2 linked regions of the Homo sapiens genome follow. The protein of the gene in region 1 purifies or fractionates together with the protein of each later gene. This does not show direct contact. Each region holds a gene or a part of one and is shown on either strand. Other genes may lie near its edges.

Region 1 (3,799 bases):
GGCCGCAGGGACTGCTCAGTCGACCGCCGAGCCATCAAGTTCTGAGGCCGCATTCTGGAGGCTCCAGATCTTTCTTTCTTCTTTTTTCCTTGAACACTGAGGGCGCACTTGGCAGCTGCCAGCTCTCTGTGGGTCCTTAACAGAGGGCACTCCATGTCTAACTAGATGCCACGGTCCAGAGCTGGCCAGGCCCGCTCTGAAGTGGACTCTGCCTTGGGAGAGCAGGGGTCTATCCTTCGCCTGTTTGGGGCTTAAGTAAGGTACCTGGCCAGCAGGCGGCAGAGCTGGGGCTGGGCTCGGGGCACTCTGGGTCTGGGGCCTGCATCCTGGACTCTGAAGCCTTGCGCTACTGGGCTATCCCCTCTGCCCGCGGTAAGCCCACCTGGCTCCTGGAGGACGCCTGAGCTCCCCTACACAGGGGGCTGCCTTGGGCCTGCCTGTCTCTCTGGAGGTCTGTATAGCTGTGGGTGAGAGGCAGTGGGCGAGGGTGGGGGCAAGCTGGGGGGGCTGGACTATGACCTGGGCATGGCCAACACGAGGTGATCTCTGACCTCGACCCAGATGGAGGGACTCCAGGCTGCAGAAGGTGGCTGGGGCCTGTGTGCTGAGGGCGGGCCCTGGCCAGACGATCCAGCTGTGAGTACAGGGCCATTGTCCTGTGCCACTGCAGCCCTGGCCCCAGCCCAGACCTGATTTTCCACCTCTGTGAATTTGTGGCAGCCCCAAATGACCGAATTGGCTGGAGACTGTTCTGTTGCTTATAACCAAAGATGCAGAACCTGCGTGCCTTGGGGGGCCAGCTGTGCCTGGGCCGGTGTGGGCAGGGAAAGCCCCTCTGCGCTGCAGGCTGGACCCTGGCAGCTGCCGAACAGATCTCAGTCAGAGTCGTGGGAGCCATGTGCCTGTAGAGGGCCAGGCCTAGGGGTTGGCCAGCACATGGTGATCCCATAGGAACCTGCCCAGGCTCTGGTGAATCCAAGGATTACGGCAGGGGTGCTGTGTTGAAGCCCTGGAAGGCTTGAAGCAAGAACATGAGAAGACCACATCCCTCAATTCTCTCCTCTGGGCAAAGGTGACAAGCCAGGACCTCCCATCACTGCTGGGAAATGGTTTCTATTGTTGCAGGGCAGAGAGCTGGGGTTCGATCCTGTGGGTGCTAGACTCCACCCCTGCCAGGGCTATGGAGGACCCAGGGGTCACTCGGCAGGAGGCTGGCTGAGCGGGATGGGGACAGCGGGAGGTGCCCAGGGGGAACTCCTGAAAGCTGGCCTTGTTGGGAGGATGCTGGCTCCCCTCCAGGGGACCTCCTCTGCCTGCCCTGACAGACATCAACGGCGCGCGGTGGGAGGTCAAGAGGTACCAGTGGGGCCTGTGCAGGCTGCCTGGGGTTGGGAGGGCTGAGGGCAGGACAGGTTGGCCTACGCTGGCCGCTGGGAGAGAGAAACACCAGGCCCATCCTGGCCTCAACATGGCCATCATGGTGGTGACTGTGACCCCTGCAGGGCACTACCACAGGCCAGGCGGCCTTGCAGGTGCTTTACACAGCTTAACTCAGTCTCCATGAGTCGGCTGCTTCCCCATTTACAGATGTGGAAACGGCCACCCAGAGGAGGGCTTTCCATCCAAGGTCACAGAGCGCTGAGCGGCACGTGAACCTGCTCTGACCCCATGCCAGTGTCCAGAGTGGGTTGAGCCCTCCCTGGAGTAGACACCGCTTAAGGACAAAGCAGGAGACAGGCTGGCGTGCTAGTGGCCAGTGGAGATGCGCAGGTGGAGGCCAGCAGACCGGGGAGCCTTGGCCTGAGCCCCGCAATTCCTGGTTCTGTCTGTCCCTGCCTGGTGGTCAGCCTTGTTTCCTAGGAGTGACCCTGGAGACCTGACGCCACTGGAATCTCAGGGACTAAGCATCTGGAGTGTGGCAGATTCAAGTCACACAATGCAGACCCGTTCCCTGCAGGCACCTGCCACATAGCAGCGCCCCCAACGCCACGTCAGATGCGCCTCCCCCCACCGACCCGCTGCTCACCTGGCTTCATGGCACCCATGACGGCACGGGAGCTCCGCAGCACTGCCTCATAGACGGCCTTCTGGTCTGCAGTGAACTTGCCGTTGGCGGGAAAGGAGCAGGTGATGTCGGAAGCGAAGCAGTAATACTCACCGCCCATGTCGAACAGGCTGCGGAGAGAGGAAGGCAGGGCAAGTGGGTACTGGGGTGCCACCGCCCCCTTACCCTTACCGCTCCCCACCTGCCCTGGACTCGAGGGCAGCTGGCCCGGGTCCTGGATGCAACTCCCCCTCACAATGAGACCGGTGTGGGGAACTGCCACCTGGTGTCTCCCACGGGTGCGTGGGCAGCAAGGAAACCCGAAGCCATCCTGGAAGACCTGTGTCTTCCAGGGAAAAAGGGACTCAGGGCTCAGCCCAGGCAGGGAAGGCTGAGGGGAGTGGGGCTGTCCTATGCAGATGACACCCACCCCTGTGGCCTGGCCTCCAAGAGCTCAGAGCCATGGAGAATTGTTTGGAGAACTAAGGAGAGGCAGAGATGCCCCAGGACCCCGCCCGCTGCCTGGCCTCCACCCGGCACCCCAACAGGCTCTCCCAGGTCTCCCTGCACCCAGCACAGAGCACAGGCTGAGGCCGTGCTTGTGGGAAGCAGAGGAGGAGGGGGCTGGGCAGGGACCCCGGATGGGATGCACGGCCTAGAACTCCGGGCCTGAATCACACCACCTGCTTCTTCCAGGACCCAGAGCATCTGGGCAGACACTCAGTCGGCGGCTAGGGCCTCTGGCTCTGCTGCAGCTCTGGGGCCCCCTAGCTGGAGGGGTGTGCCCGACACTACCCCTCTGCCCATGGGGATGGGACGGACATATTCTGCCAGGGCCCAAGGGGAGGGCAGGGAGGAAGTGCCAGACAGCCTCATGTCCAGCAAGGCTTTCCCAGGGCCTGCTGGCCACATGTCCCCGAAGCCAGGTGGGCCCCCTCACCCTGTCCACCTGCACCCTGGCACCCTCCGGTGGCAGGCAGAGACCAGCAGGACACAGGCAGGGGCGTGGAGAATGGGGCAGAGGTGCCAGCTGTCCAGGACGGGAGGGGCCTGGGGGCCAGCAGAGAGGCAGGATGGCATGGGACAGATGGCGTGGGACAGACAGTGTGGGACAGATGACAGGAGGCCTGCTGAGGCAGGAGGATGGTGGCTGGGGCTGCCCTCTGGATGCCCTGTAAGAGGGACCCTTGGCACAGCAGGGCCCGGAAGGAGTAGGGCCTGTCCTTGCTGTGCAAAGGACCTCAGGGCCCTCTCTGGGCAACGGCAGAGAAGCAGCCTCCCGCTCATCCTGTGGTGTGGAAGGGACAGGATACGGGAAGGGCTGCTGGATCCAAACCTGGCTCTCAGGACTCCCCGGAAGCAGCCCAGGTGGACAAGGCTGGGCCTGGCTGAGGGGGCGGAGGGGCGCAGGTGGTGCCCCTTTCCATCCATCCCACCTAGGCACCTCGGGAGGCTGCAGGCAGCAGACACAGAGCGGAACCCTCGGGTCCACCAGCCCCTTCACAGGTCATGGCCAAGTCACGACACTGATGGTGATGACCCTGGCTGGCGGAGGCTGGTCTAGCCCTAGGACCAGAGCCCACCACGTCTGCAGGGTCCAGAACCAGAGCCAGGAGGGCTGAGGAAGTGCAGCTGCCCCTCTTTGGCTCCACCCTGGGCTTCCCATGGGGTCCATCTGTAGCTGGGTGAGTCCTGACAAGTCTGAGGCCAGGGGCACAGCCGCGGCTTCCGTCACGAGGGCCTCTCACCCAAATC
Region 2 (3,799 bases), on another chromosome or scaffold:
CAGATGGGGAAAGTCAGTGTGAGTACCTCTGCACCTCTATTTCCTTCGCCAGGAAATAAGGATATTGCCTGCTTTGTTCATTTTGTGTGTTATTGTGATACAAAAACAAAAATAATGAGTGTTTTAGAGCTTTTGACTTTGAAGTTTACAAAAGGGGAAAGCTCTGTACACTAGCTGTCAATATTAAAAGACTATTTGAGCTCCCCATGTCCTCGGTTTGCTTATTTCTCTCTCTCCCCTGTGAACTTCTGATATAAGAGATCTAAATCAGTAAAAAGAACTGAGAAAATGGAACCAGGGATGGGTGAAAGAAATTACTCAATCTCTGGTTCTATATAAGCACCTGCCTCCAGGGTAATAAAGTTCTGTAACCAGGTAGACAGAGGGAAAACAAAAAGGCTTTTTATTTGGAAAGCCAGAAAAACAACAACAGAGTCTGACACTATATGCAAATGTCTCTTGAGCAGCATAACACAGTCTTCAGACAGACCCCAATGGAGAAGAACAGATCTGGCATCCCTGTGAGGCAGGGATTGGTCAGCTGTGGGCTGCAGCCCCTTATGGCCAAGGCAAAGGAGGGCAGGGAACCACCTCACCTCTGCGGGAGCAACTTGTCTCCGGCCAGGTAGCCAGACTTATGCACTTCCTTATTGAAGTCGCCATACTTAGACTGGACAGCATACGAGGCCAGCAGCACAGCGGTCTCAGGCGGGCAGTAAATATCATCATTGAGAATGCCCTCTTTCACTTGCAGAAAGAACAGGCGCTGAGTGATGTCCTGAATCAATTCCTCGGACACATCCTCAGGGTAGAACTTGGCACGGAACTTAAAGAGCAGGGGGCTTTCCTTCCGCACATCCTGGGCAGTCACCTGGGAAGAGTAAGGGTTATGGACTCTCAAAAAATAGGTTTTAAGGGTAATGGAGTGGCTGTAGGGTGGGGAGAAAACACTGAAAGATCATCAATTTGCATAATCTTAGACAGCTGGGTGGCAACTCCCCTGGTAATTAAGAAAAATAATACATTACTTTCACTGGGGACTGAATCCCATGTCTGTAATCACTTTCTGTTGGGAATTTCTTCCTGAAATTACCTTAATACCGACTGATGATCAGAAATCTTCAAACCACTTTTATCTGACTATATCCAACTATCCCCAAATTCTGATAGTAGGCATAAGCTCTTCTTTTAAGCTCGTCTTATAAGTCTCCTCCAACTTCATAAATTAGCAAAGTAAGGACTAGGATATATGTCTGAGGACTGAGAACTGGCTAAACAAGAGCACAAATTAGACCATTTTTTAAAGCCTGAAATGGAATACTAGTGGCTCCACACTTGTCCAGCAAAAGACTCAACTCTTTAGGAAAACAAGACTCTACCAGCAGAAGGTGGGGTACCTACTCCCTAGACACAATCAGAGAAGCAAACTGCAGGACAGTATGGAGACTTCTAAGGACAAGGCCAGCCAGTTTGAGGATACGAAGATGGAAGGCTGCCAGGTTCCCGTGAAGATGCTGCTTGGGGTGGAGAGCTTGCATGGACTCAAACCATCCCATTTGGGGTCCAACTGAGGTAAAAGATCAAGAAAGAGGGAAACATCTATATGGGGTTCAGACATTAGTTGACTGCTGGAGAAGGTGCAGCATAAGACTGTAAGATCTTTCAGATTTTTTTTTTTCTAGTTCAAGAATCTGTGGCTCTTTTTAACAAATCCCCAGCCAAGCTCAGTAGCTCATGCCTGTAATCCCAGCACTTTGGGAGGCCGAGGCGGGCGGATCACAAGGTCAGGAGATCGAGACCATCCTGGCTAAAACGGTGAAACCCCGTCTCTACTAAAAATACAAAAAATTAGCCGGGCGTGGTGGCAGGCACCTGTAATCCCAGCTACTCGAGAGGCTGAAGCAGGAGAATGGCGTGAACCCAGGAGGCGGAGCTTGCAGTGAGCCGAGATGGCACCACTGCACTCCAGCCTGGGCGAGAGTGCGAGACTCCGTCAAAAACAAAACAAAACAAAAACAAACAAACAAAAAAAACACAAATCCCCTAAAGCCATTGAGTTTGGAGAGATGAAGGGGATACCAATCCTCTCTTGAAAAGCCACTAATGGATTTGATCCAAAACAAGTCAAAGTTCAAGCTAGTGTTCCCATTAGAAAGAAAAGAGTCTCTTCTTCTTTGAATGCTGGCCATTGTCGCTGTTAGAAGTCAAAGTAGAGACAGAGCAAGAGCTTTGCCTTGCTTGTGTCCTCGGTCCTTATTCTGATCCAAGTGGTCAACAGACCACCCAGTCACAAACACAGCCCTAGGTATCCAGGATTTGCCAACTAGCACATGGTACCCTCCCAGGAATGTTCTGGAAAAGAAAAGAATTCTAAATCCAACAGAGGAATAAGCAGTTACCTTCTTATTGAGTTTCAGCCAGGTGGAGAAACCTTTAGTGTCCTGGTACTGCAGACCAAAGAACCAAACTTCCCTCAAGCCAATAGTTTTCACCACCTAGAAGAGAAAACCAAAACAACCAACCATTGATTGAATACTTCCTCTGTGTGAGGCACAGAGGACACAAAGTTTGAAGTCAATATTATATCTGCCCTTAAAGGGTTTAAGGTGCTCAGCATCTGGCAAGAAAATATACTTGAGCAGCAATCAAGAACTGATGTCGGCATCTCTCTGCACAAAGTACTGCTGAGGCAGGAAAGGGATCTATTACTTATGAGCACTGACACATACCAAGAACCTTACATCCATCATCTCCTTTAATTTTCATAATACCCCTATGCTAGACTTACAATTAGGCCCATTTTATAGATATCAAAAATGAGGTTCAAATAAATGAAATAACTTGCCCAAGTTTCAGGTTGTGAGTGACAGAATTAGGGTTCAAACCAGGTCTGTTTGACTCCAAATCCATGCATATCCAGTGATTTCTGCCACCTCCTCCTTCCCTCTACAATGTCACACCACTTCCCACTTCCATGATGGATTAAAGGCTGAAGGTGGAGATTGTTGGATTAACTCCTGTATCTTGTTCTCTTGGGCCACTCCCATATATTGTCCTTCATCCTTAGCAACTGGGGGTAATACCCACACCCTTAAGACTGAGTTCCATTTACAATACCCCAAATAAAGAATGTTTGAGAAGATAAAACGGGGATTGTGAAGGACTCTGAAGCCATGCTGTGCCTGGGTTCTGAGAGGATTTTTTCCAACCCTGATCAGAGCCAAGTCATGATTCCTCTTACACAGGTTTAGGGTGGAAATGAGGGTAGAAATAGGGTAAGTACCTCAGTGTAGCAGCTGAGGTGCCCCCTGTTGTCCTGAGCCTCCTGGCTGAACAGTGGGCAGGAAAAGGAGGCTTGCCAAGAGAACACAGATGAGCTCTGTTCTCTAGTCCCTGACATTAGCATGTTAATAGTCTGGCCCTCAGCTCAACCCCAGCATACCCACCACTGTCGATGGCAGCAGTGAAGCTGAGCCACATCCTAATGAGGTCAGGCTGGCCTTAGGCAGTCTTTTTTATTTTGTTTTTTGGGAGAAGGATGCAAGTGGAGGGTAAGGGTAAGGTGAGAAAGAATCATAGAAATATACCTGGAGATGGAAGCAGGGAACAAGGACCCAGTTTTGCTGATGTCCTTCCCTTATGAACAAATTAATATCTCCCTTCAAAATACACACACACACATGCACACACACACTCACTCACAAAGACACACATACACACACTAACACTGTATCCACAAAGTTTCTATTATGCATCCAAAGTCAGGCCCCACAGTCACACCCAGAGTTTACAATCTAGA

What was found.
Region 2: the proteins of PEPD (region 1) and MSN fractionate together in Homo sapiens (co-fractionation; one large-scale study listed by BioGRID). This does not show direct contact.

Annotation. Positions count from the first base shown.
Region 1 is NC_000019.10:33,399,695-33,403,493, forward strand, and holds part of PEPD (xaa-Pro dipeptidase), read right to left. Parts: intron 3,730-3,799; exon of another isoform or gene 2,176-3,729; coding exon 2,027-2,175; intron 1-2,026. UniProt on the Homo sapiens protein: Dipeptidase that catalyzes the hydrolysis of dipeptides with a prolyl (Xaa-Pro) or hydroxyprolyl residue in the C-terminal position.
Region 2 is NC_000023.11:65,726,510-65,730,308, reverse strand, and holds part of MSN (moesin), read right to left. Parts: intron 2,496-3,799; coding exon 2,400-2,495; intron 872-2,399; coding exon 597-871; intron 1-596. UniProt on the Homo sapiens protein: Ezrin-radixin-moesin (ERM) family protein that connects the actin cytoskeleton to the plasma membrane and thereby regulates the structure and function of specific domains of the cell cortex.